2 separate regions of the Homo sapiens genome follow, and region 1 is linked to region 2. Evidence: fine-mapped expression QTL. A gene starts in region 2. The other region holds a variant in brackets. All regions are shown on one strand. Distances are from middle to middle.

Evidence for each region. PIP is the estimated chance that this variant, and not a neighbour inherited with it, causes the effect.
Region 1: its variant is the best candidate, but not a certain one, in a credible set for the expression of RMI2 in whole blood (TOPMed, PIP 0.60).

Annotation. Positions count from the first base shown.
Region 1 is chr16:11,317,441-11,322,817 of GRCh38, reverse strand. The region is part of intron 1 of LOC105371082 (a long non-coding RNA gene); the gene reads right to left. Among named protein-coding and RNA genes, the nearest start is that of MIR548H2, 14 kb to the right of the region's middle. RefSeq lists an enhancer at 1,306-1,901. The variant G/T (reference allele first, on the strand shown) is at 2,609.
Region 2 is chr16:11,342,428-11,347,752 of GRCh38, reverse strand. It overlaps RMI2 (RecQ mediated genome instability 2), which reads right to left and starts at 2,294. Exons shown (of 2, transcript NM_152308.3): 1 at 1,987-2,294. The coding sequence starts at 2,281. The region is part of intron 1 of LOC105371082 (a long non-coding RNA gene); the gene reads right to left. It overlaps LOC105371083 (a long non-coding RNA gene), which reads left to right and starts at 2,541. Exons shown (of 2, transcript NR_135174.1): 1 at 2,541-2,640. RefSeq lists silencers at 1,966-2,045, 2,066-2,225.

The sequences.
Region 1 (5,377 bases), 25 kb after region 2:
TCGGGGCTGGGCGTGGTGGCTCACGCCTGTAATCCTAGCATTTAGGGAGGCCAAGGCAAGTGGATCATCTGAGGTCAGGAGTTCAAGACCAGCCTGGCCAACATGGTGAAACCCCATCTCTACTAAAAATACAAAAAATTATCCGGGCATGGTGGCGGGCACCTGGAATCCCAGCTACTCCAGAGGCTGAGGCAGGAGAATTGCTTGAACCTGGGAGGCGGAGGCTGCAGCCAGCCAAGTCACACCATTTACTCCATCCTAGGCAACAAGAATGAAACTCCATCTCAAAAAAAAAAAAAAAAAAAAAACCAAAAAAAAACAAAGGGAAAATCATGTCTGGACACCCCGGACCCTCAGTAAGTGCTAACACTGCCTGAGGGAACTGGCCATCTTCCGGAAAATTCCTCACCAAGCATCTCTCTGGATTCCCCTCCTCACATTTTTGGCCTCCTGGAGGGAGACAGTGGAGGTCACCATCTTGTCAGATGAGAACACAGCCCTGGAAGTGGGGGAGCCCCAGACCTGGTGTCCTAGCCCCAATCGAAGGTCTCATGTGATGGGTCCCAGAATGGGTTTGCTCCCTGACATCTTCAAAGGAAAAAGAGAAACCAGAACAAGTGAATAGGTTTTTCATAAAGCAGAAGCCCATCTGGGGCATAGGAGAGCAGAGAGTGGTGGAATGCATGTACGTGTGCATGTAGGTGTGTATGCATGTGCGTATGTATGTGTATACGTGTACGCGTATAAGCATGTGTGTATGTATGCATATGTACATGTGCATATGCATGTGCATGTGTATGTATGTGTATGCATGTATGTGTATGCATGTAAACGTGTATGCATGTATGTGTATACAACTATGTGTGCATGCATTTGTGTATGCATGTATGTGTGCATGCATGTGCGTATACATGTATGAGTTTATACATGTGTATGTTTATGCATGTATATGCATATGCATGTGTATGTGTAGCATGTATGTGTATATGCATGTGTGTATGCATGTCTGTGTATGCATGCATGTGTATATGCATGCATGTGTGCGTGCATGTGTATATGCAGGCGTGTATGCATGTAAGTGTATGTACGTGTATGTATGTGTATGTATGCATGTATATATGCATGTATGTGTATGTGCATTAGGTGTGTGTGTTTGCACATGTGTATGCACATATGTATGTTTGCATGTGTGTATTTTTTTCTTTTAGAGATGAGGGCTCGCTGTGTTGTCCAGGATGGTCTTGAACTCCTAGCCTCAAGAGATCCTCCAGCCTCGGCCTCCCAAGGTGCTGGGATTACAAGCAGATCCACCCTGCTCAGCCCCCATGAGGAGCAGTTCTTGAAGGGTGGCCTGGGGCCAGCAGCACTGGCACCACCTGGGGACAGGTGAGGAATGACCATTCTCAGGCCCACCCCGGCTACTGGAGCTCCAGGTGGGTGCTGCAGGTGGCACTGGTGCCTACTGATGTTTGAGGACCACTGGCCTTAGGGATGCAAAGTACAGATGGGGGAGCCGGCCCCTGAGGACTTGAATCCCAGATCTGCCACCTCACAGTTGCATGGCTACTTCCTGTCCCCGGGCATGCATCTCTCAATGAGTTCTTAAGCATCCAGAGCAGCACTTGGCATTTCAGGGACCAGCTTCCATCTGACGATAGGAGCTAACACACGTGCACCAGCTAATTATCTTTTCTTTTAGGAAGGGATGAAAACCATAGATAGTATTTGATTTCTTTGCAACTCCATGTTTGGCGAATTTTTTAAATTGGTAGTTAACTCTACCAATCCCTCCATACCGCAGTCCCCAACCTTTTTGGCACCAGGGACCAGTTTCTTTTCTTTTTTTTTTTTTCTTTTTTTTTTTGAGATGGAGTCTCCCTGTGTCATCCAGGCTACAGTGCAGTGGCACGATCTTGGCTCACTGCAACCTCCACCTCCCAGGTTCAAGTGATTCTCCTGCCTCAGCCTCTGGAGTAGCTGGGATTACAGGTGCCCGCCATCACGCCCAGCTAATTTTTGTATTTTTAGTAGAGATGCGGCTTCACCATGTTGGACAGGCTGGTCTCAAACTCCTGACCTCAGGTGATCCACCCACCTTGGCCTCCCAAAGTGCGGGGATTACAGGCGTGAGCCACCGCACCTGGCCCAGGGACCGGTTTTATAGAAGACAATTTTTCCATGGACTAGTGGGTAAGGGATGGTTTCAGGATGATTCAAGCACATTACACTTATTGTGCACTTTATTTCTGTTATGACATTATAATATATAATGAAATAATTATACAGTTCACCATAATGTAGAAGCAGTGGGAGCCCTGAGCTTGTTTTCCTGCAACTAGATGGTCCCTTCTGGGGACGATGGCAGACAGTGACAGATCAGCAGGCATTAGATTCTCATAAGGGGCACGCAACCTAGATCCCTCGCACGCGCAGTTCACAATGAGGTTTGCATTCGTATGAGACTCTAATGCTGCTGCCGATCTGACAGGAGGCGGAGCTCAGGCAGTAATGCGAACAATGGGGAGTGGCTGTAACACAGATGAAGCTTCACTCACTCACCTGCTGCTCACCTCCTGCTGTGCAGCCCGGTTCCTAACAGGCCACAGAT[G/T]AGTACTGGTCTGTGGCCAGGGGTTTGGGAACCCCTGCCTCTATGTTTATATTTTTAAGTCTGCTGATCTTTGAAATCCTCAAATCAGGGAACCAGTGCTGAAGAGGTCTGAGGTTACTATGGCCCTTTCACAAGTGGGTAAACTGAGGCTCCCTGACCCACCCCCACCCCCGGGGGCACAGGAGCTTGCTCTTTGGACCCTCCTTGCACTGCCCCCACAGGAAAGAACACTTGATGTCCATGGAAATCTTGCTGAGCTGGCCCTGGCAAGGAAACAGGAATGGGGTGCTCTGGGAGCTGGGCCATCCCCAGGCTCCTGCAATTCCTCAGAGCCTCCCCTGGGCAGTGGGGACCCCCAGGGAGCCAGAACACGACCGACCTTGGGTCTGAGAAGGTGCTGCAGGGATGCTCACAGCAACAACTGCAGAAATACCAGGCGCCATTCATGGTTGTTGGCTCTGTGCCAAGGGCTTGGTATTCATTCAAGGCCTGCTCTGCAAAGGGAGGATGGCACCACCACAGCTCACTGCAGCCTCGACCTCCCGGGCTCAGGCAATCCTCCCACCTCAGCCTCCAGAGTAGCTGGGACTACAGGCGTGTGCCACCACTCCTGCCTAATTAAAAAAATATACATATATTGTAGAGTCGGGGCTCTCTGTGTTTCCCAGGCTGGTCTCCAACTCCTGGGCTCAAGCATTCCTCCCACCTCAGTCTCCCAAAGCATTGGAATGACAGGCATGAGCCACTGCCCCTGGCTGACATCCCCATTTTTACAGCAGAGGAAACTAAGCCCCAGAGAACTGAAGCTATAGGCCCAAGATCACCAAGCCATTAAGTGGCAGAGCAAGAATGCGATCCCAGGTATGGGGAACCTCAAAGTCTGGGACAGTTCCAGGCTTCGGGGCCTCAGGACACTCCCATAACCATTCTCCAAGGCACCCACCCCAACCTGACCAGGGCTGAGGAAAGGTAAGGCTGTGGCTCCCAAAAATCTGGTTAACCTCCTGCTTCAGTCCTTCCTGGTGGCTTCCTCCCACCTTCAGAATAAACCCAAACTCCTCCCCACGTGACCTGCCAGGCCCCTGCCTACTTTTCCAGCCCCAGCTCCTCCATCCTCATCACTCACAGAGCTCCGGCCACGCAGGCCTTTCTGTTCCTCCGCACGCCAGGCTAAGTTCACCCCAGGGCCTTTGCACGTGCCGTCACTGCACCCAGGACACTGTTCCCTCTGACATTCACACATCTGGCTCTTCCTCCTCTTCCTCCCCATCTTAGTTCAAACACGGCTTCTGCCAAGAGACCCCACTACCCCCAACCATCTGGCTGGTCTAGATTCCACCCCTTTGCTATCATCCTCTGTTACATCATCTAATCATTTAACTTCCTCCAAAACATCATTCTGCCTAAATTAATCTTATTTATTTGTTCATCACTTGTCTCCCCCACAATGGAATGTGAGCTCAGTTCTGCAGCCTGTGAGATGAGGGCTTGGGTCAGAATTCCAGCCCTGGGCCAGCCACGGTGGCTCACACCTGTAATCCTAGCACTTTGAGAGGCTGATGCAGGAGGATCACTTGAGTCCAGGAGTTACAGACCAGTCTCAGAAACATAGTGAGCCTTGACTCTACAAAAAATAAAAAATTAGCCAGGTGTGGTGGTGCGTGCCTGTAGTCTCAGCTACTCAGGAGGCTGAGGAGGGAGAATTGCTTGAGTCAGGGAGGTTGAGGCTGTAGTGAGCTATGATCATGCCGCTGGGCTCCAGCCTGAGTGAGAGCGTGAGACCCTGTCTCAAAAAAAAAAAAAAAAAAATACATTGTGAATGGTCTATGTAAGTCATAATAAGGTTAGTAAAAGGAATCTTTTTTATTATACTTTAAGTTCTAGGGTACATGTGCACAACGTGCAGGTTTGTTACACATGTATACATGTGCCATGTTGGTGTGCTGCACCCATTAACTCATCATTTACATTAGGTACATCTCCTAATGCTATCCCTCCCCAGTAAAAGGAATTTTTAAAGGAGTTGTATAATTCAGCTGGCTATAATTAAAAATTATAATAATCTTTCTAGAGATGCATCTTTAATATTAAAAAATACACTAATACAAAACTAAATAATTGGTTAAAACAAGATTTTTTTTTAATTTTTTTTTTATTCTTTAGACAGAGTCTTGCTGTGTCACCCAGGCTGGAGTGCAGTGACACAATCTCAGCTCACTAAAACCTCAGCCTCCCGGGTTCAAGTGATTCTCCTGCCTCAGCCTCCTGAGTAGCTGGCATTATAGGCATGTGCCATCACACTCAGCAAATTTTTGTATTTTTAGTAGAAACGGGGTTTCACCATGTTGGCCAGGCTGGTCTCGAACTCCTGACCTCAAGTGATCTGCCCACCTTGGCCTCCCAAAGTGCTGGGATTACAGGCATGAGCCACCACGCCCAGCCAGAAACAAGATTTTATTACAAATACTGACTTATTTTTAATGCAAGGAGTTTTTAAAATTTTTGAATTCCATATTCTTTTTATCATTCTTCAGATTGATATGTTTTTTGAAAAGGCCTTGAATGATACGCTCTCTCCACCTTTTGTTGGCTCCTGTAACTTTTACTAATTGTCTAAAGTAAGGGAGAAATATTTTTTGAAAACAGGCAAATAAAAAGTATCTTTTGAACACTCAAAAACAATTATGATTGGGAGGCCGAGGCGGGCGGATCACGAGGTCAGGAGATCGAGACCATCCTGGCTAACACGGTGAAACCCCGTCTCTACTA
Region 2 (5,325 bases):
TCGCAGGACACATGAAAAGAGGAGGCCTGTAGTTTGCTGACCCTGTCCTAGACCAACGCTGCGGCTGAGGGCAGGCAGACAGAGGGAAGGCTGATGGGTAAGGCAGTGGGAAGACGGAACAGGAGCATGTGGCAGTAAACGAGTCCTGATATTTTGCATCCTCACTGTGAGCCAGGTGCAGTACTAAGGCAGTTGTTTACTTATTGAATCCACACAACACGCAGGAATGATTAGCTCCTTTTTACAAAATAGTACAAGTCCAGAAAAGTTAACAAGAGTGCTCCAGGCAGCTCAGTTGGGAAGGGGTGGAACCAGAAATTCGACCTAAGCCTTTCCGAGTCCACAGCAGCTCAGGCCAGACCACAGCCCTATCTGCCTCTAGTTAGACTCCAAGACTGAGCAGGAAGGGCCCTTAGGAATGAAGTGATCTTGGCCTGATTTCCCAGGAGAGGGAGCTGAGGTGAGGGAAGGCCCATGGAGCCTCAGAGCTCCTCAGCTTAGACCTCACATCCTCTAGAAGCCTCCCCGGGCCACTCAGCACCTTGCACATCCTCATGGCTCCCCAAAGATCAGCGATCCTCTGCGACACTTGCTCACTGCCTGTCTCCCAGCAGACTCTATCTAGGTCTCGGCTGCAGCCCAACACTGCACATGAGGGGCTGATGTACAACACGTGCTCAACTGACATCCCAGGGAACAAGTGAGATGGATGCCCATTGCCTATCACTCAAGACTATTGGTTCTTGGAGCACTTATGTGTCAGGAACTGGGCCAGATGCTGAGGATACAGTTGTCAGGACCACACAGCTCTGGCCCTCCAGTAGCTTGGGCTGGCCCAGTGGTTCTCAAAGTATGGCCCCCAAACCAGGCGTGGTGGTACAGGCCTGTAGTCCCAGCTACCCAAGGAGGCTGACGCAGGAGGATTGCTTGAGCTCAGGGCCAGCCTGGGCAACACGGTGAGTCCCCTATCTCAAATAAATAAAACATTTAAAAAGTCGAAAGTATGGTCCCCAGACCAGCAGCATCAGCATCACCTGGGAGCTGGTTAGAAATGCAAATTTCCAGCCCCACCTGGACCTCCTGACTCACAAACCCTGAGGGTGGAGCCCCAGCCATCCCAGCTTTACCAAGCCCTCCAGGAGAGACTGATGCTGGCTCAAGTTTGAGCATCAGTGGTTTAAGAGAGGAAGCAGGCAGGGCGCAGCGGCTCATGTCTGTAATCCCAGCACTTTGGGAGGCCGAGATGAGCAGATCACTTGAGGCCAGGAGTTCGAGACCAGCCTGGCCAACATGGCAAAACCCAGTCTCTGCTAAAAAATACAAAAATTAGCCGGGTGTGGTGGCACATGCCTGTAATCCCAGCTACTCGGGAGGCTGAAGCATGAGAATCGCTTGAATTCGGGAGGTGGAGGCTGCAGTAAGCTGAGGTCGCGCCACTGCACCCCATCCTGGGCGACAGAGTGAGACTCCGTCTCAAAAAAAAAAAAAAAAAAAAAAGAGAGGAGGCAAACATGAGTGAGCTACAGCCCAAGACAGTTCAATTAAGGAGAAGTACAGGAGGGTCTCCCGTTCCTAGGGGCTAGGGAGGACTTCCCTGAGAAAGGCACATTTGAGCTGAGACGTTAAGGATGAGCAGAAGTTTCCCAGGACAGTATTTCCCAAAACAAGGATATCAACTGGGAGAGGGGGCTTGTGACAAACGAAGGTGCCGGAGTCCCTCCCCAGAAGATTCCCACTAGGGGTGGGAGAGTCCCAGGAATCTGTATTTGTAAAAGGGACGGCAGGTGATGCTTATCATCAGATCAACTTCACCAAGGAGGGACCGGAGCAAGGGTACCCAAGCGGGGACCCGCAGGGGCAGAGGCCCGGAGGAGGGCCAGACCCGCCCCGCCCCCGTTCGAGTGTCAACAACAAGATCGAATCTGGCCTCGGCAACTTCTCGGCGGGCAGCAGGGAAGAGGGCGCCCGGTAAGGCCCGGGCATTACCTGGGACTAGACAGGGCCGCCCGCGCGGCACCCGCTCCAGGCCGCGGACCGAGAAGTCCCCGCTCGGGTCCCTCAGCCGAGCCTCGCCGCGGTCCGCCATCACTACCCTGCCCTGCATCCACACGGCCGCCAGGTCCAGCGGCCCGCGGCCCGCCGCCGCCCGTGACAGCCGCCACGCGCCCGGGCCGCCCTCCGCGTCGCGCCGCAGCTGCTCCGCCAGCACCTTGAGTGGCGGCGACCTCGGAAGCCGCACCCCCGCGGGGCCGCCTGAGAACGAGTCCGCAGCCGCCGCCATTCCGCCTCGCCGCACCCTTCCGCCCCGCCTCCGCTTTCCCGCCAACTTTGAGAAGCAGCGGGGCCCGGCCCTCAGCCACCAATCAGGAGCGCGCTGGCAGAGCCGGCCAATGGTCGACGTCAGAAGGCGGGACCGCCGGGCGAAGAGGCCCTCTCTAGCAGCCAGGAGTGCGCATGCGTAGATAAAAGTAAATAAACGCCCTCAAGTTAGGAATGAACGGAGGAAATGGGTTAAACGAGAATAAATAATTGAAGGCAGAGAGGTAAAGAACTTCCTCTTTCAACGCATCTCAAAATTTGGCGTGGATGCAGATCACCTACAGAGTATGATTATTCATCTTTACATTGCCTTGTTTTGAGGTTAGTAAATACTGAAACGAATTAAGAGTCCGTGTTTATTGGGAGTGAGCAAGAATCCAGTCAGGAGATAAGGCTGGGGAGGGAGACGGGGAGAGCTGGCAAACTTGCCTTTTCTTTTATTATTATTTTCAGTTATATTTTAATAGCATCAAATAATTTTAAGGTTAATAAAATATATTGCTATTTTTCAGACAAGAAATGCACATTTATTGTAAAAAAAATAGGGGAAAAATGTAGAACAAGAAAATAATTGTAAAAGCCGCTTATAGATACCCACTGTTAATTTTGGGGTATATTAGCCTTTAGGCTTTAAAATATGTGTGTGTATTTTTTTTGAGACAGGGTCTCACTCTGTTGCCCAGGATGGAGTGCAGTGGCACAGTGACGGCTCACTACAACGTTCACCTCCCGGGCATAGGTGATTCTCCTACCTCAGCCTCCCAAGTATCTCGGACTACAGGCGTGCACCACCACGTCCAGCTAATTTTTGTATTTTTTGTAGAGACAGGGTCTTACCATGTTGCCCAAGGTGGTCTGGAACTCCTGGGATCACGCAATCCTGCCTCCTTGGCCTCCCAAAGTGCTGGGATTACAGGCGTGAGCCACCATGCCTGGCCTATTACTGATATACAAATAGTGTTTTGTATATTGTTTTCACTTAATAATGAACATCTTTCTGTATCAGCAAATATCCATCTGCTTCCTCTTGAATGACTGCATAATACTCGATTTGTCTTATCACATATTAAACCAATATCCTACAGTTGGACATTAAGGCTATTTCCAATTTTTCACTTTATAAATATATCCACTGTGGACCTACTTAAAAGATAAATCTTTTTTATTTATTTATTTATTTATTTTTTTGAGACGGAGTCTCACTCTGTCACCCAGGCTGGAGTGCAGTGGCGCCATCTGGGCTCACTACAAGCTCCGCCTCCCAGGTTCCCGCCATTCTCCTGCCTCAGCCTCCCGAGTAGCTGAGACTACAGGTGCCTGCCACCACGCCCAGCTAATTTTTTGTACTTTGTTTTAGTAGAGACGAGGTTTCACCGTGTTAGCCAGGATGGTCTCGATCTCCTGACCTCGTGATCCACCCGTAAAAGCTAAATCTTTTTGTGCATCCTTCAAATAAAATTCCCAGGAATCTCTCCCTAAAAATTGGATGTCCCCAGTCAGCAAAGTCCACAGATCCTAAATCAGGCAATCCTTAAAGTCAAGGTCAGTTCTTAAGAGAAACTTTGAGTTCCCAGGGCCTCCTGCAGTACCAGGCATTCAGAGAGTATTCAGCAAGAGCTTGATTTTTTTTTTTTTTTTTTTTTGAGACGGAGTCTCGCTGTGTCACCCAGGCAGGAGTGCAGTTGTGCCATCTCAGCTCACTGCAACCTCCGCCTCCCAGGTTCAAGTGATTCTCCTGCCTCAGCCTCCTGAGTAGCTGGGACTACAGGTACACGCCACCCGCCTGGCTAATTTTTGTATTTTTTAGTAGAGACGGGGTTTCGTCATACTGGCCAGGCTAGTCTCAAACTCCTGACCTCGTGATCTGCCCGCTCAGCCTCCCAAAGTGCTGGGATTACAGGCGTCAGCCACCGCACCCGGCCAAGAGCTTCATTTTTATAAAATTGAGCCAGGTCCTATTGTAAGAACTTTGTAGGAAGTATCCCATGTACCCCCACAGACCCTGAAAAGACTGTTCCACACAGGTGAGGAAACTGAGGCTTAAGGAAGCTAGAGGGCTGGCCCATAGACTCTCAGTAGCCTCTATGAGGTTTTGGCCTCTACACCTAATATGGTTTGGCTGTGTCCCCACCCAAATCTCATGTTGAATTGTACTTCCCATAATCCCCACATATCGTGGGAAGGACCCCGTGGTAGGTAATTGAATCATGGGGGCGGATACTCCCATGCTGTTCTCGTGATAGTGAGTGAGTTCTCACAAGATCTGATGGTTTTATAAGGTGCTTTTCCCCCTTTGCTCGGCACTACTTCTTCCTGCTGCCACATAAAGAAGGACGTTTGCTTCCCTTTCTGCCATGATTGTAAGTTTCCTGAGGCCTCCCAGCCCTGCGGAACTGGAGTTAATTAAACCTCTTTCCTTTATAAATTACCCAGTCTTGGACAGTTCTTTATAGCAGTGTGAGAACAGACTAATACAACACCTCAACCCTGACCTATGAAGTAACCAGGCTCCTAGGCTGAGAAAGGAGCAGGAACATTAACCAAGAGAGAATCCAACCCGTTCATGCCTGGTGGGTCCTCACTGACCTTCCCCCGAGGTACCTTAAGGACAGAGAAGTGACGGAGAAGGGAGTTAGCGTGAAGGGAGAAGCCCCCAGGCTTCTTGTATGAGCCTGGGAATCCCCCATCATTCCCTTGGCCTCCAGATTCCCTGCACCTGCTCCCACAAGCCCAACACCATGTTGCTGGCAGAGTGATCTTTTCAAAACACAAGTCTTAGCATGTCAGCACCGGGTTTATAACACCTTGATGGTGTAATCCACACATCTGGCATGTGAGCATTCCAGGCAGAGGGAACTGCACATGGAGGGGCCAGACAGGGGAGACAAAGCAAGAAGCATGTAGCAAACTGCCAGTAGTTAAGGATGGCTGGGACACAGAGTAGAAATGGAGGACTGGGGATAGATGAGTCTGGCTCTACATAACCTCATGTCTTATCCCCATTTT